Linked DNA regions of Homo sapiens: all the other regions are linked to region 2. The links come from fine-mapping of genetic effects on gene expression. A gene starts in region 2. Each other region holds a variant in brackets. All regions are shown on one strand. Distances are between the middles of the regions. Region 1 overlaps HK2 (hexokinase 2). Region 2 holds the start of POLE4 (DNA polymerase epsilon 4, accessory subunit). Region 3 overlaps TACR1 (tachykinin receptor 1).

Region 1 (8,184 bases), 72 kb before region 2:
ACATGGGCATGAAGGGCGTGTCCCTGCCTCTGGGTTTTACCTTCTCCTTCCCCTGCCAGCAGAACAGCCTGGACGAGGTAACAGCACCTTCCTGGAGGGCTCTCCTGTGGGCTTTATTGACTCTAAACAAAACCAGCCAGGTATGGAGCAGGGGAGAAAGTTGAGCTAAGACTAAGGAAAGGAGGGCGTGAGTTACCAGTAGTGGGGAGGGGCTCCTTGATGGGAATGAGTAAGTTGAGGCTGGTGGAGGTTAAGTAGGTTAGCTCAGCTGTGACAGCCTTTGGGACAACGATGATGATGCTACTCAATGTTAACAACTGCCGGGTGTGGTGACTCATACCTGTAATCTCAGCACTTTGGGAGGCTGAGGCAGGAGGATTACTTGAGGCCAGGATTTCAAGACTAGCCTAGGCAACATAGGAAGACCCCATCTCTATTGAACTTATATATATATATATAGCATTTTTAAGCACTTACTGTGTGCCAGGTACTATGTTAGGTTTCTTACCTGCATTATCTCGTTTAACCCTCACAGCAACCATATAAGAGATATGTTTGAATACCCATTCTACAGAAAGGAAGATAAGCCCCACAGAGGTGCTGGGTGTCTTGCTCCAGGTCATAATAGCTTGGGACTGGCCAAGCCAAGATTTGGATTCTGGGTTCCTGATGCCTGAGCCTGTGCTGTCAGTTATGCTGTGGGGCTCCTGAGGCCCTTGTTATGGGCTCAGGGCATTTTCATGCCATATCCTGTTGTTTGGATGCCCTGGCTCTTCTCTGGTCTCATCTTGCTTCTCACTCCTCTTCAGGTTACCTTGGGTGAATGAAGTAGGTGCATGAGGATCTGGCACTCCCAGATGTTCTGGACATGAGTGCCCCGAGAAGTGGAGGAGAACTGAGTAGGCAGTGCTGGATCTGCTGATGACTGGTAGCCCTAAGCATTAGGTATCTGGAGACTGTTTTTAAGCAGTTGTGTCTCTGTCTCAGTCATGTAGGAGTGCACGTGCACGCTGCCGGTGTGTGGTATGTTGCACATGCCACTGCTAGGTATAAAAGGCATGGCTCCTACCTTTAGATGCTTACAAACAAGCTGGGCTGATGAAGCAAGCTCAGAAAAGGAAGAGCTGCTGTTTGGAATGTGGCCCTCGTGGGATGGATACTGAAGCCCCCAGGACAGGTAGTGAGACAGATGTTAATCCGAGTGCATACCTGGGGGATGTCAGGAGGACTTGGAACAAGTCAGAAGAATGAGTTGATGGGAAAGAAAGGTGAGCAGGCTGCCCATTGTGGAGAGGGTCATGTAGGTGGGAGCAAGTGACAGAAAGAGCTGGGCCAGCGCAGAAGAGCCTACCCTAGTGACAAGGAAAGAGCAGCATTTCCCACAGGGTCCCTGCAACAGTGGCCCTCACCTTGGCTTCACTGAGTTTTGTAGATGCCTCCTTCTCCTCCTTATCTGAGAGAATTCCCCATGTGCACTAGTATAATTAAGGTTTTAGGAAGTTCTGCAATAAAAACTCAGCTTAGTCTGGCATTTCTCAACACCTATTAACATTCATGTAGTGTTAACCAGACTAGCGTTGCTTTATGCCTCATGTGGACAAATTCTTATGTACTATTTAATGGACCATTACTTATTATAACAAAGATATTAGAAACAAACTTGCTGAATAGTGAGATAGTAGTTAAATAAATTATGACCCACTTATTAGCTAGTATCAGCCACTAGTTATTTGTAATAAATTTTAATCACATGAAAAATTACTGGTGATATGACTAAAAAGTTTTAAAACTACTTTTCTTTAGAAATGGTAATCTCTTTATAAAAAAACATAAAATACAATTAATGGGATGATAAAAGCATAACCCTCCAGTGTATATCCTTCTTCTAGACTTCCTACCAAAATATTTTCAAGTAGATACTATCTTAACTTTTCATGCCAACAGGTTATATATTTATTTATATATTTGCCAGGGAAACCAGAATGTGTGTTAACTGTTTCTGTCTGAATTGTGAGATTCCAGGCCATTGGATTAGGTTTTATTCTGTGTTCCAGGTTTCTCTGAGGAGCACGTGTTAGGTCTAGAGCCGTAAAAATTAAGAGCAAATAAAGCAGAAGTCATTTCTTCCTGTGGGCTCTGGCAAGACCCTCCTGTGATGGGGAAATCCCACCAGTGCAGAGGCCCCTGGGGTTAGAGACCCCAGGGCTCTGTGGCCCCCAGCTGTGTTTCCCAGCTGTTGGGCCTCCACTTGCCTCATCAGTAAGGATCACCTGAAATTATGTTATTTGAACATCCCGTAAACACAAACTTGCGTCAAACATGTGAAGCTAACTTGTAGAGAGCTGGGTGGAGATCAGCACACACTGGTCAGCCAGCTCTCTGAGGGTATGTGCTTTGTTTTTCTGAATCTCCTGGGGTCTGAACACAGTGTGACACCTCCAGGTTGATGTGAATGAAATGCCAAGCTGATGGGCATGAATCCCTGAGCAAGGCCTGGAGAAATCATGCAAGTGGGTGGGTTATGAGCACACAGCTCATTTATGGAAGCCGAGCTCTTGGGTAAGGAGTCTGAAGCCCTGAGGCTTGTTTCCTGGTGGGCTGTGGCAGCAGAGAGGGCATCAGGGAATAAAACCCAAAGCATTTCTCCCAGGTTCAAAGCCGTCAAGCATCTGCTCCCAGAGGACCACATTGAAGGCAAGGGGCCACTGAGGATGCTGAGGAGGAGCCTGGAGTTGTTTTCCTCACTGAAAGACATGGGGTGGTGGTGAAGCCTAGCTGTCACCCAGCTGTGGGCAAAGCACTTGTTCGCCAGATGCTGGAGTTTGAAAATTAGGAGACATACACTGACCCTTCTGATGTAAAGGATAGGGACAGAGCAAACTGCTTTGCCCAGTGAGCGAACCAAGCACATAGGAAGAAGTTGCACAGCAGGGTCAGCTGCGTGGTGCTTATGAGCCCATTCACTGGGGTCGGAGGGCCTCGGAGTGCATCCTGCTTCTCTCTTCCAAGCTGTAGGCCTTGAGCAAGTCACTCCAGAGCCTCAGTTTCTTATAAAGTGGCCATAAACATGATAGATGTTCCACAAGGGTGCTGTGAGGGTTAAATAATGTAATGCATGATCTATGCTTAGCCCAGTACCTGCTACACAGTAGGTGCTCAATAAATCCAAGTAAGTACCTTAGGAACAGTTTAATTTGCGGGTGAGATGATTGGTGACTCTGGGGGATCCGTCTGACCTGTGAGGTTGAGAGCTAGAAGCACAGCTGGACCCCCAGAACTGACCTGGGAGCTCTTCCCTGATGTCCTTTCCATGCTTGTGTGTGATTTTTAGAGCATCCTCCTCAAGTGGACAAAAGGCTTCAAGGCATCTGGCTGCGAGGGCGAGGACGTGGTGACCCTGCTGAAGGAAGCGATCCACCGGCGAGAGGTAGGAGACACATGGCACGAGGTCTGATGTGTCAGCTCCTCAATGATTGGCCTGGTCTGTGTGTTCAGAAAGTGAAGGCAACAGTAAGTGTGGCTGCATGGGTTGGGAGGAAGATTAACTCAAGCGTCGTTCAGCAGTTTAGTGTGCACTGTGTGTCAAGCAATGCTCTCAGCACTGGCGGTTCAGGAGTGACCACAACAAAGCTTTGTTCTATAAAGTCCATGACCTAGTGGCAGGTGCTGTTAAGAGCTGTGAAACACACACACACACACACACACACACACACACACACACACAGTAAAGGAATAAAAGAATGGCCACTCCATAAGCAAAACAGCCATGAGGGCTGCTGGTTGCACATTTTTATGGTTATTTCTTGATTATATGCTAAACAAGGGGTGTATTATTCATGCCTTCCCTTTTTAGACCATATAGAGTTTAAAAAAAAAAAAGAAAGAAAAGGAGTGAAGTGGGGTGAGGAGAGCAGATGGAGCAAGTGTGCTGGAAAGGGGCACTGTTAAATAGCACAACTTGGGAGGGTCTCACCAAAGAGGTGACATTTAAGCACAGACCTGAATGGAATGAGAGGGTCAGCCATGGTGTATGATATATATTTTATATACCTGTAAATCTCCCATGCAATTGTCTGAAAGGAGAATATTGGGGTTCACCTGTGAACTGGGCATCTGCTTCTTCCCTCTCAGGAGTTTGACCTGGATGTGGTTGCTGTGGTGAACGACACAGTCGGAACTATGATGACCTGTGGCTTTGAAGACCCTCACTGTGAAGTTGGCCTCATTGTTGGTAAGGACCCAGACTGTCCTTTCCACATGGGGATGCACAGCCTTGGGTGTGGAGGGGTTGGTGCTGAGTGAGGCCCTGGTATCCTGTGATTGGCAGGCACGGGCAGCAATGCCTGCTACATGGAGGAGATGCGCAACGTGGAACTGGTGGAAGGAGAAGAGGGGCGGATGTGTGTGAACATGGAATGGGGGGCCTTCGGGGACAATGGATGCCTAGATGACTTCCGCACAGAATTTGATGTGGCTGTGGATGAGCTTTCACTCAACCC[C/G]GGCAAGCAGAGGTAGGCACCCAACTGGGGCCCTGTTAAGTGTATCCCAGGACTGGATGGCAACAAGTGATCAGAGCTTCCACAATGGCATCTCCCAGGACGCCGGTTCTCGTGAGATGTTAATAAAGGAGGTTTTCTTGGAAAGGGTTTCTTGTCGAATGCACCTGGAAAGTTCTGAGTTAGTAAATGTAAGAAGCATCTCCCACCCAAAAGCCTAGGAGAACAGGTGGGAGAATACTAGACCCTAGGTCTGGCACTCTAAGGAGAAACAAGTAGAAAGTTGAAGCACCTGCTGCTGACAGGCTGAAGAGCATCTCTTGGGTGATGCAGACAGGAGCAAATCCTCTCCCTCCTCCATCTTCCAGCGCCGAGCACCACCTACTGTCAGAATTGAGCAAGGGGCCAGCCCCAGTGTCACAAGGTCCTGTGCATGGTAGGGGAGCGGGGTCTGAGCTAAGAGACAATAGCTTAAGATCTAACACACTTCTCATTAAGATGTTGTCTGTAGTGTTTCCTAACTAGATTAATCAAACACCCTAGTCCTGCAGAATACGCTTTGCAAAACATGTGTCTAGAATAGAAGTTACAGACTAAAATGCCTCTAGGGGCCAGGCAGGCAACATTAATGAAGGAAGCAGGCTGGGTCAAGATAAGATGGGGTGGTGATGGGCTATTGGTTGAAACTAGGGACCTCGTTTTTTTTTCAAGGCAGGATTCAGGACCAAAAGACCCTCAAGCCACTGCATAATAACGTTTAGTTCCAGTGGCCAGGATGGGGGCCCTACAGCTGGCAGTAGTTACTTGAGTAATGATGGTTAGGTCCAAGAGAATGTATACTGAATGCCTAGTGAGGTTAAAGATTAAGACTCAGCATTCTCCCCTGCTCCGAGAAGTCCAGTGGGGTTATGGTGTGTTCCTTCTCGAGTTGCTTCTTGAAATTTCGAAATAAGCCTTGGAAAGGAAATGAGTTCCTTTCCCTGTGGGTTCCTTTCCAAGGCTTATTTCCCCAGGAGCCCCACGGGCCTCGGGCACTGTGGTCAGTGTTGCTGAAGGTTGTGAATTAGCATGCAAAGACACCAGGGATCCTGCCCAAGTGAATCAAGTAGCAATTCCTTTCCCATCAGGGGAGTCTGCCTGTCTGCCACTGCTGATGCACTGGGGGTGACTAAGCTGGCCTGTCCTGTCTCAACACATCCCTCCACCTTCCTACTTAACCTCCATGAATGTTACTTGCATTGCAGGTTCGAGAAAATGATCAGTGGAATGTACCTGGGTGAGATTGTCCGTAACATTCTCATCGATTTCACCAAGCGTGGACTACTCTTCCGAGGCCGCATCTCAGAGCGGCTCAAGACAAGGGGCATCTTTGAAACCAAGTTCTTGTCTCAGATTGAGAGGTGAGAGCTTAGGGCTCAGGGTAGCAGGGGGGCCATGTCCTTTTTTCTCACTGGCAGACAAACTGAAGGATTTCCATAACTCAGGGCATGACTCATACAAAAGTCAGTTTAGTGGCAAACACATTCATGTCTATAGTGTTTACTAAAAGCACATTATGGGCAGTTGTCATTTTAAGGGCAAACAGAGCATTCTCATGAAAGTTTGTGCTAAGCCTGGCCTGAGGTCATGCAAAGTGATATTGTTGGGTTTTAGACCATGTATCAAAGGTAGAAAGATACCTGCTCATAGCATGTAAATTGAAACGCACAGAGGAAGATAACCTATTAAAGCATCCACACTTGGCTTGAAAGCCCTTCCTAACTGCTGGCTGCAGTAATCAGGCAGCCAGGATTGAGTAAAGGTTGGAACGTCAGGCAATGCAGACACATGCCACACAGTGGCTCATTAGAGCAAAGCCTCCCTCCTACAGTCAAATGGTGGAAAATCTCCAAATTAGAACAGTGAATTTCAGAGCCCTTTAAAAATTAATGCTGTGCCATTACTCTCAGGGCAGAGAAGAACAGGAACTAGACAACTGATGTGAGTAGACCCCTCGGGCATCTGCACCAGTGAATAGAAAGATATATTCTAGCTTATAGGTCTGTTATGTTCAGCGAGGTGATTCCAGGCTTCTAAAATAGCTTTCTTTATATAGGAGGGTTTATTTTCTTTCTATAACTTTATTTACACTTCCTTCGTAAATAGCATATAAATACAGTTCAGACCACCCAGAGCAGCAGAGCAGAAATAAAGCACGAGTCTAATGCTGCTTGGTTAGTTCCTGCCCTGCAAACCCATGAACAGCAGCGAGAAAATGGACATGAAAGAGCTTTGTAACTGACCACTGTGATAAACAGTGAATTTGCTTTGTTTTGAGTATCTACTTTGTAGTAGTAATGGTCTATCTGGAGTAGGGAGAGTAGAATGAGGAGCTGTTTGTATTCCTGTCACCGTCAGGAAGAGTCAATGCAGTGCAGTAGGTTGAGCAGTGGTCTGAATTTAGGAATGGGAACCACCTCGAGGGGCCAGCTCCTGGAGAGCTAGACCCCCACAGAGCCTCCCCTGTAAGGACTCAGGCCCTGGTGTGGTAGGCTACCAGCCTTCTTGGTGCATGACTGAACACTTGCTGTCTCCCTCCCACCCCAGTGACTGCCTGGCCCTGCTGCAAGTCCGAGCCATCCTGCAACACTTAGGGCTTGAGAGCACCTGTGACGACAGCATCATTGTTAAGGAGGTGTGCACTGTGGTGGCCCGGCGGGCAGCCCAGCTCTGTGGCGCAGGCATGGCCGCTGTGGTGGACAGGATACGAGAAAACCGTGGGCTGGACGCTCTCAAAGTGACAGTGGGTGTGGATGGGACCCTCTACAAGCTACATCCTCAGTGAGTGCCTGATCCCAGCCCCCCCTGCCTACCTTCTTTCTGTCTTTGTTCTTTCCCTTTTCTTTCTCTCTTTCCTTTGTTACTTTATAGTGAATTATCAGCCATTCCAAATAGTGTATATAATACATGGATTATAGTTTAAAGATTCATAATCAGAAGTAGGCCTGTGTTTCACCCCCCACCGTGGGAAGCCCCCTCCGAGCCCCTCCACAACTGTGTCATCATTCTCCCATGCCAGGGGTAAGTGTTGTGCTGAATCAGTCCCTTGCTTTTCTTTTCCACCCCCATATATGTAGGTATGCATCCATATTGTTTAGTTTTACTTATTTTTGAACTTGCCACAAATAGAATCACATGGTATCTCTTCTGTGGCTGGCTTTTCTCACACAGTGTTTGTTTTGAGACGCATCCGCATTGAAGTATACAGTTGGTAGTTCATTAATTTTCAGAGCTGTATAGCGTACCTTTGAGTATGTTGTTTTTTCTATCGTTGAGGTGATATTTAGGTTACTTCTAGATTTTGACCATTACAAACAGTGCTACTGTGAACATTCTGGCAAATGTAATGCTAGAACTCTGGAGCAAGATTTTTTTTCAACATTCTAGAGCAGGGGTTGACAGGCAACAGCCACAGGCTGTTATTGTACATATAGTTTCATGAGGATTGGGAGGGGGCAGAAGCCCAGCCACCAACCCTGGGACATGGCATCCTCAGCTTTGTAGATGGGGAGGGTGTCCTGACCCTGCTGTATTGGGGCAGATCACAACTCTCTCTTTCTCTGGTCCATATAGGAAGGATCTGTGATCACTGTGATATCCTAGCAGTGACTCTGTAAGTCTGCTTCTTTTGCCTCCGATGACATTTTGG
Region 2 (8,184 bases):
AATCTTTAGCTTATTAGATAAAATACTTCACAAGTTAAAAGAAAACTTTAGACAAGTTAAATTTTACAGAGTTTAACTGAGCAAAAAATGATTCTCGAATCAGGCAGCCCCCAGAACCAGAATAGATTCAGTGTGATTTTAGGCCTGCCGCATGGTAGGATAACAAGGAAAATGATGTCCAGAAAATGGAAGTGAGGTACAGAAATAGCTGGAACGGTTACAGCTTGATGTTTGCCTTATTTGAACCTGGTTTGAACCTGGTTTGAGCAGCTGGCTGCCTGTAATTGGCTGAAACTTGGCTATTTCTTACAAGAGTAAGTGACCGTTTTCACATCAAGTTACCTTGCATTTCTCTACATATGAAGAAACCTTTAGGCCAAACTTAAACTATGTAAAGAGACAGCTTTAGGCCAAACTTCACTTAACACACATCATGTTTTTTTTGCATTAATTTTCATCACGTAGCCTTTTAAAGATATTTTTAGCCTTCATTCTATTTGGACTGGAATGCGAACCGTGTGTGCGTGTGTGGCTTTTTGAGCTTTTCAACCTTCGTCTTCCTGTTTCTTCTGCCTTTTTTCCACTGAAACTCAAAAACTGTGAAACGTGATTTCCCTTTCTAACACACCTTAGTGCTGTTCAATACTTATAGTCAGGAAGTCCTGTCTGGTCTCCATAAACTCTTGGTTAGTCATAGTCAAACCAGGGAGAGAAGGACTGCACCAAGTGGTGAGACATTCAAGTGATGAGGAAAAGAAAAGAAAAGAAAAAAAAAAGAACACGAAGGGGAACAAAAAAGGAGAAAAGGAGGAAAGGCAGGGAACATATGAATGAGACAAAATTGGGAAGAAAAGGGGGTTGAAATGAGAATCCTCTGAAAGCCAAGTTGACTCAGCCCTTTCAAGAACTCTTAACTCCTCCTGCCCGTTAAAGGTGTGTGAACCAGAGCAACTCCATCTTGAATAGGAGCTGGGCAAAATGAGGCTGAGACCTACTGGGCTGCATTCCAAGATGGTTAGGGCATTCTAAGTCAGCGGATGAGATAGGAGGTTGGCACGAAATACAGGTCATAAAGACCTTGCTGATAAAACAGTTTGCAGTAAAGAAGCCAGCTAAAACTTACCACCAAAACCAAGATGGCCAGGAGAGTGACCTCTGGTCGTCCTCACTGCTACACTCCCACAAGCACCATGACAGTTTACAAATGCCAGGGCAACATCAGGAAGTTATCCTATATGGTCTTAAAAGGGGAGACATGAATAATCCACCCCTTGTTTAGCAGATAATCAAGAAATAACCACAAAAATGGGCAACCAGCAGCCCTCAGGGCTGCCCAGCCAATGGAGCAACCATTCTTTTATTCCTTTACTTTCCTAATAAACTTGCTTTCACTTTACTTTATGGACTTGCCCTGAATTCTTTCTTGTGTGAGATTCAAGAACTCTCGCTTGGGGTCTGGATCAGAACCCCTTTCCTGTAACATTTTTCTGGTGACCACGAAAGGACTCTAGCAAGGAAACCCCTGACCCAAAGGCTAACTTTGGGTAAGTGGTGGGGTCCAGTAACACCCCCACCATTGTCAACTGTCTTATGTTAATTCAGAATTTAGGTCAATTTAGTACTTAGCTACTTTGCGATTGCTGGAGTATAGCTCTTGTGAGGTGTTCTTGTGCACTGTGACACAAGAATCTGGTCATGCTTTTATGAATTTTGTGTGGAGCTTTCCATGAGTGAGAGTGTCCATAAATGTAATCTGAAAAGAACCCAGGACTGAGGCCCTAATGGCTGCTCTGGTTCAATTTTCAGCAACTCATATCCTCTTCTGCAGATTTTAATTCTGGGCCAAGACTCTTATTCTGCTATAGTGGAGTGTCTCTGTGCTAATTCAGGGTTGGGGCTCATTACATGATACCCCAAAGTATGGTACTTTGGAATGCTGAGTACTTTGAACTGAAGAAAATTGGAAAGGCCTCAGAAGCAAGGTCTTTCTGAACTTCTCCTGTCCTGTTTTCCACTGTAAGCAGTAGAAGTTATTACAGTTACTGGCAGCAAATTGCAGCAACCTCGATTCTTGTCTCCTCAGAAGATGTCGACTGAGGGGCATAAGGCAAAAGAAGAGACTGAGGCAAGTTTTAAAGCAGGAGTGAAAATTTCTTAAAAAGCTTTAGAGCAAGAACGAAAGGAAGGAAAGTACACTGAGAAGAGGCCCAAGTGGGTGACTTGAAGGACAAGTGCAAGGTTTGACCTTTTGACTTGGGTTTTTATGTGTTGGCATACTTCTGGGGTCTTGCATCCCTTCTACCCTGATTCTTCCCTTGGGGTGGGTTGTCGAAATGCACAGTAGCCTGCTAGCGCTGGGGAGGGGAGCAAGTGCAGTGTATTTATTGAAGTTGTAAGCATGCTCACCTGAGGCGTTCTTCCCTTTTTCAGTAGAATGCCCCCAGAAGGTCATATATCAGTTAAATTCCACCATTTTGCCTCTTAGTGTGCATGCGTGAGCCCGCTCGCCCAACTCCTGAGATCTCATCAGGAAGCTCCTGATCATCAGTTTCAGGGTTTTTCTATCTATAGGGAAACTGCCTTTCCCTGGCGCTGGCTATGAGCAATTATTATTTTAGAGAGGCGGTGTGACCACTGTCTGACCATCACCTGATGATCTTCTGACATTCCTGGTGGAGCGTGGGGGCCCTATCCTGCCCTGTTCGTGTCTGACTAGCTACCCACTGTAACATCACCACTCTTCGCAGTGAGTCATGGAAACCAGAATTCCTCTTTCCCAACGCAGGTCATAGAAACTAGAATTCTCCTTCCTCCAAGCAAGTCGTAAAACCTAGAAAGGTTATTTTCTGCCTTCTCCCTTGAAGACCCTCATTCCAGAAGGGTCCTGCCCTAATACCAGAAGGAATGCTACACAGGGAGGCCAAGAAGAATATGAACAGACAGGCCTTGCTGGGTTTCCCCATTCAGTCTATTACCATTAGACTATTATCATTCCCTTTTTGTCCAATCCCATTTCTTTTTCTTTTTAAGACACAGGGTCTCTCTCTGTCGCCCAGGCTGGAGTGCAGTGGTGCAATCATTGCTCACTGTAACCTTGAACTCCTGGGCTCAAGCAACTCTCCCACCTCAGCCTCCCAAGTAGCTAGGACTATAGGATCACAATACCCAGCTAATTTGTGTGTGTGTGTGTGTGTGTGTGTGTGTGTGTGTGTGTGTGTGTAGAAATGGGGTCTCCATCTGTTGCCCAGGCTGGTCTCAAACTCCTGGGCTCAGGCGGTCCTCCTGCCTTGGCTTCCCAAAGTGTTGGGATTACAAGTGTGACCCACCGTACCAGGCCTCTAATCACATTTCTACACAGCGATCCCTTCTTCATATAACCTAAGCATAAAAATAGTTTCCTCTAGGTCTCATGGTCTGCATTTTTGGACTCTCATGTCATGTAAAACTTTGATTAGACTTGTTAGGCTTTTTGTGTGTGTTATAGGAGTGTCAGCTGTGACCCTTAAAATGGGTAAAGAAAGGTTTCACACCTTTCCACTCCTACACCAGTCAGAGTTTACTACATAATTTTGGAACTGAGTGATTTCAGATGTGTTTAATTCAGCTTCATCTTGGCTTCACCACATTCTGCCCTGTGTATGCGACTCAGTAACCACTCTGCACCTCAATTTTTTCAAATAAGGTTTGAAAAAGAAGGTTATAATATTTACCTCAATAGGGTATTGTGAAAATTACAGAAGTTATGATTTACATAAATCTAAAACACTTTGAATCATGCACATAGTAAATGTTTAAAGGTGTTCACTATTATTATGATTGACTTAGATTAAACCTATTTTAAATATTAACTGTTCCTCTACGCTATCAGACCTCCAAGTGTGGTGTGGGGATTCATGGGGGTGGGAATTTTCTGGAGACCCTTTTCAGGAGTCCATGAGGCCAAAATTATTTTCTTAATACTACTATGAGGTTGCCTTTTTCATTCACATTCTCTCAAGATGTAGTAGTTTTTTAAGAGCTACCTGAGAAGTGCTAACGTTAGCAACAGAAGCAGCTAGAGAATCCAGTTCTCACATGAAATCAGACATTAGAGACTTTTCTTACTAGATTTAAAAAAAATTACTTGTCATAAAAATGTTGTTTGTTAGCTGGTAACGCATTAGTAATTTTAAATCAATATTTTAAAACTTTAATTCTAATATAGTAAGTATTGATATAACTGACAGAAACAAAAGCTCCCTGGGCTCTTTAACAATCTTTAAGACCGTAAAGGGATCTTGAGGTCAAATTTGAGAACCAAAGCTGTGATGCAACCTCTTTTTGAACAAACGTGGATGCCTCACCACCACAATTTCATCTTTTCTAGCCTCCATGACTTTTTCTTGTTTCCTCTGGCTGGGCTGAATTTCTTCATTTCTGCCTGCCAAAAGCCCTACCCCTCCTTCAAGAGCATCTATAACTGGTTATCCTTGAATTTGGTCCAGATTTCGCTGCCTCCTTGGCACCCTCTTCCACGATGCTGGGCCCTCCAGGGCCGGGCCTCCCTCGGACACGTGCCCTCGTTAGCCTTGGAATATGCACACTCTGTTTTGACGGAGACTCTCTTGCGAGCCTGGTCTAGATTTCTCCCCTCACCAGCCAGGCACAGGCACCAATGGGAGGTGCCTGGGCTCCACAGGCCCGTCGGGGCCAGAGGGTCGCCGGTAGCGTCAACCAAGTGCACGACAGCCCACGGGTGGCTAGGCGCGTGGGAAGAGCCGGAGCCCGACCCCCGCCCACCCGGTTTCCTGGCAGCGCACTGCCGCGTAGGGGCGGAGCCGCGCGCCTACACAGGGTGTGGCCTCCAGCCCGCGCGGGAAAGGGCCTGCGCCGCATGCGCGCGCACAGTCGGCGGCCGCGCGCAGCACGCTCAAGGCCGGGATGGCGGCGGCGGCGGCGGCAGGAAGCGGGACGCCCCGAGAGGAGGAGGGACCTGCTGGGGAGGCAGCGGCCTCGCAGCCCCAGGCCCCAACGAGTGTGCCTGGGGCTCGTCTCTCGAGGTTGCCTCTGGCGCGAGTGAAGGCCTTGGTGAAGGCAGATCCCGACGTGACGCTAGCGGGACAGGAAGCCATCTTCATTCTGGCACGAGCCGCGGTGCGCCTGCAGCGCGAGGGCATGCGGGAGTGGGGGAGGTGGAGTGTGGGGCGGGGCCTCGGGGCCTCCCGCGGGCGGGGCTTAGGGCGGCGTGGCCCGGGTTTTGAGATGTGGGCGTGGACCCGGAAGGCGGAGGAAAGGGGCCGGGGACCTGTGCGAGTTTTGTTAACACTCCTCCCTCTTGTTGAGGACCTGGATAGTGAGTGACTTTAATTTGTATCTCCAGGGCCTCGTACAGAACTTGTAGGAGTCTTTAGTGAATGAGGGAGAATACTGGGAAGAGGGTAGCGGAATGGATCTTCATGAAGTCCAGGACAATCTTAGCTTCCAGAACATTTTCTTGCCCCGAGCCTTTCTTCTCCCTTTCTGCCCCCACCCACAAACCGGAGCCCTCACCTCCTCAGTGTGTTAGAACCCATTACTAAAACTTTGCTTTTTTACTTCACAGGAACTGTTTGTGGAGACCATTGCAAAAGATGCCTACTGTTGCGCTCAGCAGGGAAAAAGGAAAACCCTTCAGAGGAGAGACTTGGGTAGAGTGGCACTGCAGTGTCTGGGGACAGACAAGGGAGGGCTGGGCTGGTTTCCCCTTGTGCAGGTTGAGAAGACGTCACTCTGATCTGAGAGGTGCCACAGCGTCTCTCCCCAGGATGGTTTCTGTTGGCCACAGTGCCAGGAAGCCCTACCTGTAGAGGCTGTCTGCTTGGGGTGGCGGGGCAGTGTGTGAAGGTGTCTGGGGTTGCCGTAGCGGACTGGATCCCTTCATACCTTCTGCCAAATTGCACCAGAAAAAGATATTTCTTTTTCACCTAGCAACTGGGGATTTGATTTCTGACTCTTGTCTGGCTGGGAACCCTCACCTGGGTAAGATTTCGTATACCGTATTCTCATGCGCCCTGCGTCTATTGCCACGTTCTTCTCTGACAACTTTAAGAGCAAAGCGAATAAATAATTTAGGGGTAATTTAGGAGGCCCCCAACCCCCGCGTTGAATGGTATTTGCCTATGCTTTTCTTAACTCTTCTAGGGAGACAGCTAATATATATAAGAGTTGCTGGTAGAGTAGATATGGATCTCAAGGCAGCAAGGGACGCATCTTATAAATGCCCTCATTTGCCCAAAGCCTCATGCCCTTCACTGCAGATTGTGCTGTTTTCTGACTGAGGTCAGCATGGCTGAAGTTAGTCAGGTGTCTCTTTTCCTTGTGTTTCAGATAATGCAATAGAAGCTGTGGATGAATTTGCTTTTCTGGAAGGTGAGTTCCCTCTCAGTGGGCAATCATTTCCGCCTGTCTTTTGCATGTTGATGTGAAATTCAAAATCTCATAAAACGGATGCCTGCTTCTTGTTTGTGTAGGGATAATTCTCCGCACTTGCTATTAGGATAGAAAAAAGTAACTTGCTAAACCTAGTGAGGTTCAGTTTTCTCCCTTGGGGAATTAAAATTTCTACCTGAAAATTGCTAACCATAAAGAAATAGGAGGGAATATAAAGATCCCAGTGGAGTTAGATGAATTCGAAAGTTCGATTCCTACTTTGATCGCCATCCCTAAATGTCAGGCTTGCCCCCCCTCATCATGTTACAGATCAGAAACAATTGTTAACATTTAAAGGGTCACCGCTTGTTCTTTTTTCTTCAACAATCTGTGTGAAGTGATTATTTTGCTGCAATAAGACTTGTACTTGTCTGTATTTTTAGGAGTCATGGATTAACTTGTGTACTAACTAAATTTTGTCATTAAAAAAGAAAATATTTGAAATACCTAATTTTAGCTACCTAGCCTCAGAGCGATTTCTGCTACTTAATTCTTCAGTCTGATCAGCTTACTCTTCACTACACGTATGTAGTCATGTGCTGCGTAATAACTTTTTGGTCAGCCATGGACTGCTCACATGAGGGTGGTCCCATCAGATTATAATGGAGCTGAAAAATTCCTTTTGCCCAGTGAGGTAGTGGTCATAACATCCTAATGAAATACATTACCTTTTCTATGTTTAGATTTGTTTAAATACACTTATCCTCATGTTACAGTTGCCTACAGTATTCAGTACAGTAACATGCTGTTCAGGTTTGTAACCTGACAACAATAGGTATACCCTGTAGACTAAGTGTGTAGTAGGCTATACCATCTAGCTTTGTGTAAGTACCCTCTATGGTGTTCACACAGTGGTGAAATCGCCTGAAGATGTGATGCATTTCTCAGGATGTATCCTTGTTGTTGAGCGACACATGTATTTTGATTGAATAGCTTAGCAAAAGCCATGTATCCTTATTCTCCCAGGGTGTTCTCATTACCTCCTTCAAGCCTTATTACCTTTAGAAATATCTTGATTTATTCCACTCTTTTTTACTCCTTTGTTCTGCATCTCCCTGTCAACCTAGGCCCCTGGTCCTTTTGATAGATATTTTTTAAATGTCTTATTAGATAGATAGACTACCATGGCCAACTCTATGTCTAGACTATTGAGCATTCTTTTAATTTGCAGATTTTTCTTCAGCCTCTCTTTCCACCTACTCATTTTTCTTAAAATTAACTTTTGTTAGTCCTACCTAAGGCAGGCACTCCTTGTGACAGACTTTCTGTAAGTTCTGCAGTCAAAAATGTTTGGAGCCTACTTTACCTCTTCATTTTTAATTACCAGCTTTTCAAAGACATGAGTGATATGATCAGATTTGTATTTTAAGTGCACAACATTGCTGCCCTGGGGAAAATAAACTGGAGGGTACTAGGAATAGAAGTGGGGTGGTCTTATGTAGTTTTCCACTCTAGCCTCTATCACAGCATAGTGCTTAGCTTGGATTTTTAATAAATGGCCATTTATTGAATGATTGGTGTGTTTATTTTCATCCTCTGCCTTCATCCTCATTTATCTCTGTAATTGAATCCCTTTGCTCTGTCCTACATTGGTAGATCTGAATGTTAGCCATCATAGCCCCTGTGGATTCAGTCTGCATTATATTATTTTTTACTGGGTAAAATAAATGTTCTTATGTCCTTAGGTGTGTATGGTCTAAGTAAATACATTTTTTTCGTTTTTATAATACATATCCA
Region 3 (8,184 bases), 200 kb after region 2:
TAAGATATCCTGGAACACAGTCACACTATTTGTTTACATATTGTCTATGGCTGCTTTTGTGCTATAACACAGAGTTGAATAGTGTGACAAATATCATATTGTGCATACAAATTATTGTGGTGGGTCCTCGATATGATAACAAGTATTCTTGTAAGCGATAGAAGAGGAGAAGAGACATACAGAGGACAAGGCCATGTCACAACAAGTGGAGACTGGAATTATGCAGCCACAAGCCAAGGAACCTCTGGAACCACCAGAAGCTGGAAATGGCAGGTAAGAATTTACCCAAGAGGCCGGGCGCGGTGGCTCATGCCTGTAATCCCAGCACTTTGGGAGGCCAGGGCGGGCGGATCACAAGGTCAGGAGACCGAGACCATCCTTACCAAAAATACAAAAAAAAAAAAAAAAAAATTAGCCGGGCATGGTGGCAGGCCCCTGTGGTCCCAGCTACTCAGGAGGCTGAGGCAGGAGAATGGTGTGAACCTGGGAGGCAGAGCTTGCAGTGAGTGGAGATCATGCCACTGCCCTCCAGCCTGGGTAACAGAGCGAGACTCCGTCTCAAAAAAAAAAAAAAAAAAAGAAAGAATTCTACCCAAGAGTGTCTGGAGGCAGCACAGCCCTTCCAACACCTCGATTTTGGACTTCTGGTCTACATAACAGTGAGAAAATAATTTTCTTTTGTTTCAAGCCACCCAGTTTGTGGTAATTTGTTATAGCAGCCCTAGGAAATGAATATACTGGTCTTTCATACAAAGTTTACCAACCCCTGTTTCAATCTGTCTTTCTACATTGGATTTGGGTATGCTCATTAGTGTCTAGTTTTCTTCTAAATGAAGTAAAGAGATAGTGAAATGTAGGGATACACTGCATTTCCATTAAAATGACTAAGAGAATGAGAAAGAATGCTCAGCACTATGAAGCTGACAGCTCTTCTCCTCCCATGATGGAGATGGGAGTCGGGGCTGGGTGCTCCATCCATTTCTCCAAAGGACTCATGTCTCCCATGCATTCCAGCTGCTGACCTGGATCAATGGTTTTCAGAAACAGAGGCTAGAAGGGATTATCTCATCAGCTTGTATTCAGGTCTGTGGTAGTGGCAGGGCAGGGGTTGGGGGATTGATAAGGAGGAGGATGAAGAAGGAAAGGCACCACCGTGGAGCAAACTGGTAACTGAGACTTGGAGGAAAGCTAGACCCTTCTCCTCCAAGTCTAAACAAATTCCCTTTCCTTTCATTTTCCTTACTACCATCTGCCCACTGTAGTCCTCCTCACCCACCTATGGAAGCAAGGCTTACCCAGTGACTTTGGGTAGGTACTCAAGCTTCTCTTTCCTACTCTCCCAAAAGAGAGGACTCAGGTCCTGACAAACAAGCATCATAACGACCTACGAAGACAGGATTTGACATAGGAAAATCAGAGCTTGCATTGTTAAGAGTTAAGAAGGGGGATTGTACCCACCTTGTTCCTCCACCTGTTCACAAACAATGTGTCAAAGAAGGGGCAGGTAAGTGGCCAGGCAGCCCTGAAATAGCCTGGGGCCAGGACTGTGACAAATACTCACTGGGAACATCCCCCACCTAAGGGTTGAAGTCAGGAAGAGGAGTGCCCTGTCCTTACACTAGATGGAACTGTTCCTCTATAAAAAAGAAGAAGAAATAAAACCTGATACATGTATTAATCTTATTCAGGGAGATGTGGGTTTTAAGCAATTCAAATATTTCATTCTGTTCTTTCAGTTCTGCCTACTGGCCATTATCAGGAAGATGTGGGAAATAGACTGAAAGAAAATCTTCTGATTATTGAAAGAGAATTTACAGCAGCAAAACAATTTGCAGTGTTTCTACCTAGAGACAGGGAAGTAAGAGAATCTGAGTCCAAGTCCCCACCAAAAAGAGCTTTAGTTTAGAGCCTGTTTCTCAAGAAACTTGCATATGCACACATGAGTTTGGGAAATTCTCATTATTACCTCATAGGTTAGGTCTAAACCTTATTTTAAGACTGAGAAATGGAAACCTAGCTGTGTGAAGAATGCATCAAAGATCATAGAGATGGTTAAGGGCAAAGAGAATACAAGACTCCAACTATGACCCAACTGGGTCCTCCAACACTTTTTACTATCTTTGGATCTGATTCACTTCGGGTAAATGTCTCCTGAGATCTTCCTATGGACGAAGATCGAGCATTTATCGGAAAAGCATTACTCTAGGCAACTATGTAATCAGTAGAATTTTAATTTGACCAAGTGGACATGGAGAGATTTCCACAGCTTATTAACTTTCCCTTGCTCTCTGCCTTTTTCCCAGGCAGAAAATGCATATTATGTATTCCCAGTGTCTGGCTTAATAAGAGGGATTATTATAAAAGGCAGCAATAGGACATCTATTTTCTAAAATATCAAAAAATATGTATTTATTTTGATAAACAGCAAAAATTAAAATGGTCCTGGGGGAAGAGTGCTCTATCGCAGGCCTCAGGCAAAGTTCTAACCTTAGAATCTGTTAGTAGTTAGCAGCAGGGTTAAAAGTTGTTTTTATCAGCTCTGGGTGATTGCCATATATTTTCATCAATTAATTTTTGTTGAAATGCCTGCTGAATATGTGATGTTGCATAGGGAGACAGCTGAATGTTTGCAACATAATCTAATTTGGCAGCTGGGACCTGAAAGCTGAGTATTCCTCAAATCAATATGCCCAGCATCGCAAAGGAAGCAGAACTGAAAAGAGAGGAATGGGTGGTTGGGTGAGATGCTTGCAATGTGGTGATTTAGCTGGAGTTGGGCCTCTGTTCCGAACTCAAACGGTCCCATGTCCCAGGCCTGGCTCTGCCACCAACCAGCTGTGCAGCTTCCAGCAAGTTATCTCAACCTCGAGCATCTGCTTCTTCATCTGTAAATGGAGCTAGTAATTGTACCAACTTTGGAAGACTGTTGTGTTAAGTGCTTTAGAAGTATTATCTCATTTAATTCTTACTACAACCACTACCTGGTAAAATAATTTTTTATTGGTACCTTTTTTTTTTAATGTTTTAGAGAGATAAACAATGTAGCTAATTTTGTAGGAAAGGCCAAAGTAGCTAATTTTGTAGGGGACCTGATTTTTAGTCCAGCTTGGCTGGCAACTAATTTTAGGTCTGTAAAGGTTCAGAAAGTATATCCTGAACACAAGCCCTCCTCAGTTACGTTATTTAAAGTGTTAAATACTCAAGCCAACCGAAACACAAACCAAAGTAAAGAATTTAGATAAGAAAGACATGTGAAAAGGAGGCTACTGGTAAGTACAGAACTCAGTTAAATGTAAATAATTATGAATTAATTGTATTATCTTTTTATTTAAAAATCTAATAAATTCTGATTTTTCTCTCCCCAACTTCCTGTGATATAACTAAGAAAAAACAAAGAGAAACTAGTTTCTGTAAAACTGGAAACTCCGAGAATTCCTCAGTGATATGCCAGGAAACAGGAAGAATTTCCACTAGCCAAAGTTCTGAGGAAGTTACAGGCAGGAAAAAAGATAAGGGTTACCATCTTTTTTTAGTCAATAAAGCTATGCCCACTCTAGGTACTTTCCTTAGAAACATGGAGTCTTCCCAGCAGAGAAAGGAAAGCTAGCCCCAATTTGACTTCTAGAATAATAGAGCCATTTT[G/C]ACCACACTTTCCCTAATATTAGTTACTGTTTTCTTGCACTGGCTTGAGGCTACAATTACCCATAAAATGTTGTGTGACTAGGAGTGCTTATACCTAGAGGGTCTGGGTGGCAGTTAAAAAGAGCTGAGTCTGACAGAGTCGTAGTGCATTCTGGGAGTTATATTGAATCCTGGAGAAACTATTTACCGAGCATTTACTACATGTCAATAGAGGTACCATTCGCTGGATCAGGCACATAAAGAATTGGGAAGAAGGTCTGACTCTACAGGAATCAATACCACTCATGAAAAGATAGGCAGTGGGACTGGATATCTCCCCATGGCAATATATTCACACTACATACAAGACTTTAAGACAGCAAAAGATGGGCTGGAAAGTAAGAATATCAAACAACACTTGTTCATAAGAGAAGTGAACCAGCAGAGAAAAGAGAAAAGAATTGTACCAGCAGTTATGTGGATAGCCAGGGGAACAAAATTAAAAACATACATTGGGAGTTTTGGGAGTTTACAGGAAAATCTCTCCTGAGCAGACCTTTGCACATTAAAGAATGAGTAAATAGAAAAAAAAATGAAATTGATGACAATGAATTATGAGTACGTATTATAAAAGGAGGGGAACATAATGCTCAAAAGGCAGAAAAAAACAGTTTTGAAAGAAGATTTATAACAAATAAATCTTTGTTTGATTTATTTGTTATGCAAATAAATCCAAAATAAATTAGAAAATATGGTAGTTTTGGACTTTAAAAGCTATTCATAACATGGACACTGTGGAACAGTTCTGACTGGAAATCAAAGGAATAGAAGCTGAAATAAAAAGGAACTTGCTGGGGACAAAAAGGCAGGAATAAAGAATGATTGAGATGAGAAACAATTCTGAAAGAGTTAAAAATGCAGTTACAAAATCGGATTCAGCATCAGAACAGGTAAATTGCAAAAAAGCAAATTAGAAATGAAAGAACCAGCTTTAGAAGTTGCTCCACAATGAAAAGGAAAAGAACAATAAGATAAAAAATAATGGGGAAATAGGGATTCCTGGACAGGAGAACTAACCAATTTGAACAGAAGTAATGATTTAAGACATAACCGAAAAAAAAGTTCCTTAATGAATAAAAGTTGGGATCTGCTTACACTAAGCAAAATCAATATACGTGAGAGAGGGGATACATATCCAGAGATATTCTGATATATTTTCTTATTTCAATGGTAAGGAAAGAATTCTACCAGCCATCCAAGAAGGTAAACATTTTGCCTATAAAGGAAAAATATCAGGCTGGGCTCTAATCTTCTATTATAATGCCAGAAAATAACAGAGCCACATTTACAAAATTATGACATGAGAAATCTTATAGAGTGATAATTGTCTACCTAAGTTGTGCTAAGGTAACAGAAAGAACTTCTCATGAATATAAGAGATCAGGAAGTATATTCACAATACCATTCCTGGAAAAATAAACAAAAACCAAACCCCCCAAAACAAACAAAAACCACACTACTCAAAGACATTAGGGATAAACGGTTGAGAAGAATATTAAAAAAGGAAAGCTGTTTACTAAAAGAATTATGGCAAATCTTGCAAACATTTAAATTGAAAATTAAAGCTTAATAATAGTTATAATATCATTATGAGGCTTATTACAAATGTCAAAAATAGCTCTTTAAAGAGAAAATATACAGCATAATATTTAATAGTAAGAATATGAGTTAACATTCCATAAAAAACTGGGACAGTGAGAGAAAAGAAAAGGGAATTAGAAATACATACTAAAATGTTAATCTTTCACAGAGGTACAATCAATACAGTTTTATTTTTGGCATTGATAGGAAGAAAAGAATAGTTTCAAGTAAGTTATTTTTAATGTAAACTACCAGGAAAATAACAACAGAATGCGCAACTTTCAAGTCATGAGACAAAACAAAGTCAAAGAAAATAGTCCATATAGTAAAGGAGGTATAAAAATGAAAACAGTAGAGAGAACAACAAATCACCTAAAATAGAAGCAGAAGTAGACAAAGCATAGTCACTATTACATGAAACATTAATGGTTAAAACACTTTTATGAAACGAAAATGACTCTAAAAGGTCAGAAGCATGTGAAAAACCATATGGACTTCCTAAAAAAACTATTACTCAGGAAAAGTTACAAACTAAAAGATGGAAAACTTGTGTACAAATATGGCTTATGGATATTGAGCTATATCTTCTCATCAGTTCTGTGGAGAGAAACAGATGGGCAATATTGAGTCTAGGTCAGTGAATGTATCAGGTAATCACTAATCCAGAGGGAATATTAGATGAATTTGTCAAAATTGAAGGAGGAGACCAATTGAGATGCTAACAAGTATTGACTCTTCCAAAAAAAAAAAAAAAAAAAAGAAGTGAGTCTGTGTTGGGGGGAGGGGAAATGTTGGAAACCTTCCAATTAATATCACTCAGGAGCGTATTGAAAATCCATTTGCAGAATGGAAGCCAAAGAATGTTCTGAAAGTGCATTTTAGAATAAAATGTTATTGCTCTGTGACACTTACAAATTCAAAAGAATACAGCCATCCAATTAAAAGTTTACATAATCAGATTTATGAAGGTCAAAGGCATCCTAAAGTATTGCATGCTTTCATTACCCCACCTAAATATTTCTTTAAGCAAAATGGCAGAATCTTTAAAAAATGTGTTAGAGGCACACAGTGTTTTGTTCCCTAACTAATTCTAGCCAATGGCCAATGGTTCTGGATCTCCAAATAGTACTGGAAGAGTGCCAGTGCCTTCATATGAAAGTTTACAATATTTAGTTCTTCTATTTTAGGAAAGAGAACCTTGGGACTAGAATAAAACATGCCAGTGAAAACTGAGAAGCTCCAGCTAGAAGTGAAAAATGTATCAAAGGAAATAGATCTATTTGAGTTCTGTTTTATCTCAGACATACTTAATTATATTTCATGACTTTCTTGGTTAGGAACACAGTTCCCTGTAATTGAAGGTCAATATGATGATATTTTTAGCAATTTTTTGTGCAGTATTTTTTGTCTGAGAGACACTCAAGATTCCACTTTTTTCTGCTTAAAATCTTTTTGCACATTAATTGTATATTACCATTTCATTGAAAGATAGATGACTCAAAAATTTTGTTGATGTTTCAAGGTTGTTAAAATTCCATGCTAGAATCCCAGTTACAATCTGCTATACTTGAGTATGAAGAACTATGCATTTATCATGCGTGGAAGAGACTACTGGGCCTACCTCATATTTTCCCTGTCCTGGTCCCATAAGAGATTATACTTCCCAGTCCGTTTGCAACTAGGCAAGGCTGTATGAATAAGTCTAACCAACAAAATGTGAGTGAAAGTGATGTGTGCCACTTCCTGGCTAAGGCAGTTAAGAGCTGACATGACACTTCCACTTCCCTCTTACCCAGTCATGGCAAACTTGGAAGTCATGTGTTGAAATGACAGTGTCACAGAATGGAGGGAGATTTGATCCCTGAGTCAGCAGATGGTGGAGAGTCCCCATTGATTCACAGGAGACTTTGGGAGAGCAAGCACCAAAGTGCTGTGCTAACTAGAGAAGTCAGGGTTTGTCTATGGCAACTTTTATCAATTTTTTTACCCTTACATAAGCTTTTTTGTGCTTTCCTTTTGGGCTCAAGTTCTTTAGGACCTAAGAATATTTATTTGCCTTGAATGAAAATGTGAATCAGTTCACAGCAGTACAAACTCACAGAGTACAAACTCTAAAATAAAGGCATTTACATAAGTCTTAATAATAAGTTTTGTGTTTCATAGGCATATATTCTATTAAATGCAATTCTAAATGGATTGCTTGGCAGGGCAAAGGTAAATGTTGCCAGATTTCTTATAATTTTTAAAGTACCTCTTTATCAGATAAATGAGAAAAAAGTTGAAATAGAAACAGTGAACTCTGAACTTCTTCCCTAATGACTTATTCTACAAAGTTGGTGCACAGGTGTGTTAAAAATATGATATTCAACGTTGTTTTCATTAGAAGTATTTTATGACTTATTTTGAAGAAAATAATCAATTCAATATAAAAATGTAGATGTCTTAGTAGTAAGGGAAGAGAGCAAGGGAGAGAGAGAGTGATTTGTATCCCAATATTGCATTATTACTCTTCATGGATTTAGTCATTTGATTCAATGAAATTTAAAATGAATCATTTAAGTTTCTTCATGTTAGTTAACCAGTCTATATTTTGCACAAAATGATTCTTCTATTTCTTTGGAGTATTTCATGAAGTGATATAAAATTATCACCCTTGTCTTGAAAAAAAAAATCTCCTAAAAAAGTAAACAAATGGAGGTACAAAAACAATCAAGCAAATACAAACTAAGAAAGCAGGAGTGGGCCGGGTGCAGTGGTTCACAACTGTAATCCCAGCACTTTGGGAGGCCGAGGCGGATGGTTCACGAGGTCAGGAGATCAAGACCATCCTGCCTAACATGGTGAAACCCCGTCTCTACTAAAAATACAAAATATTAGCCAGGCGTGGTGGCGGGCACCTGTGATCCCAGCTACTCGGGAGGC

What was found. PIP is the estimated chance that this variant, and not a neighbour inherited with it, causes the effect. A credible set is the group of variants that fine-mapping cannot tell apart.
Region 1: its variant is the best candidate, but not a certain one, in a credible set for the expression of POLE4 in neutrophils (CEDAR, PIP 0.56).
Region 3: its variant is the best candidate, but not a certain one, in a credible set for the expression of POLE4 in tibial artery (GTEx, PIP 0.52).

What each region holds. Positions count from the first base shown.
Region 1 is chr2:74,882,163-74,890,346 of GRCh38, forward strand. HK2 (hexokinase 2) reads left to right here. Exons shown (of 18, transcript NM_000189.5): 12 at 1-77; 13 at 3,332-3,427; 14 at 4,132-4,231; 15 at 4,328-4,511; 16 at 5,741-5,896; 17 at 7,083-7,316. Among named protein-coding and RNA genes, the nearest start is that of LINC01291, 23 kb to the right of the region's middle. The variant C/G (reference allele first, on the strand shown) is at 4,500.
Region 2 is chr2:74,953,760-74,961,943 of GRCh38, forward strand. It overlaps POLE4 (DNA polymerase epsilon 4, accessory subunit), which reads left to right and starts at 4,884. Exons shown (of 4, transcript NM_019896.4): 1 at 4,884-5,133; 2 at 5,582-5,666; 3 at 6,346-6,387. The coding sequence starts at 4,921. LOC105374809 (a long non-coding RNA gene) reads right to left here and starts at 5,120. Exons shown (of 5, transcript NR_187884.1): 1 at 4,973-5,120. RefSeq lists enhancers at 4,470-4,970, 4,971-5,471 and silencers at 4,763-5,022, 5,093-5,332.
Region 3 is chr2:75,156,043-75,164,226 of GRCh38, forward strand. All of the region lies in intron 1 of TACR1 (tachykinin receptor 1), which reads right to left. TACR1-AS1 (TACR1 antisense RNA 1) reads left to right here. Exons shown (of 4, transcript NR_168010.1): 2 at 162-273. Among named protein-coding and RNA genes, the nearest start is that of TACR1-AS1, 5.8 kb to the left of the region's middle. The variant G/C (reference allele first, on the strand shown) is at 3,643.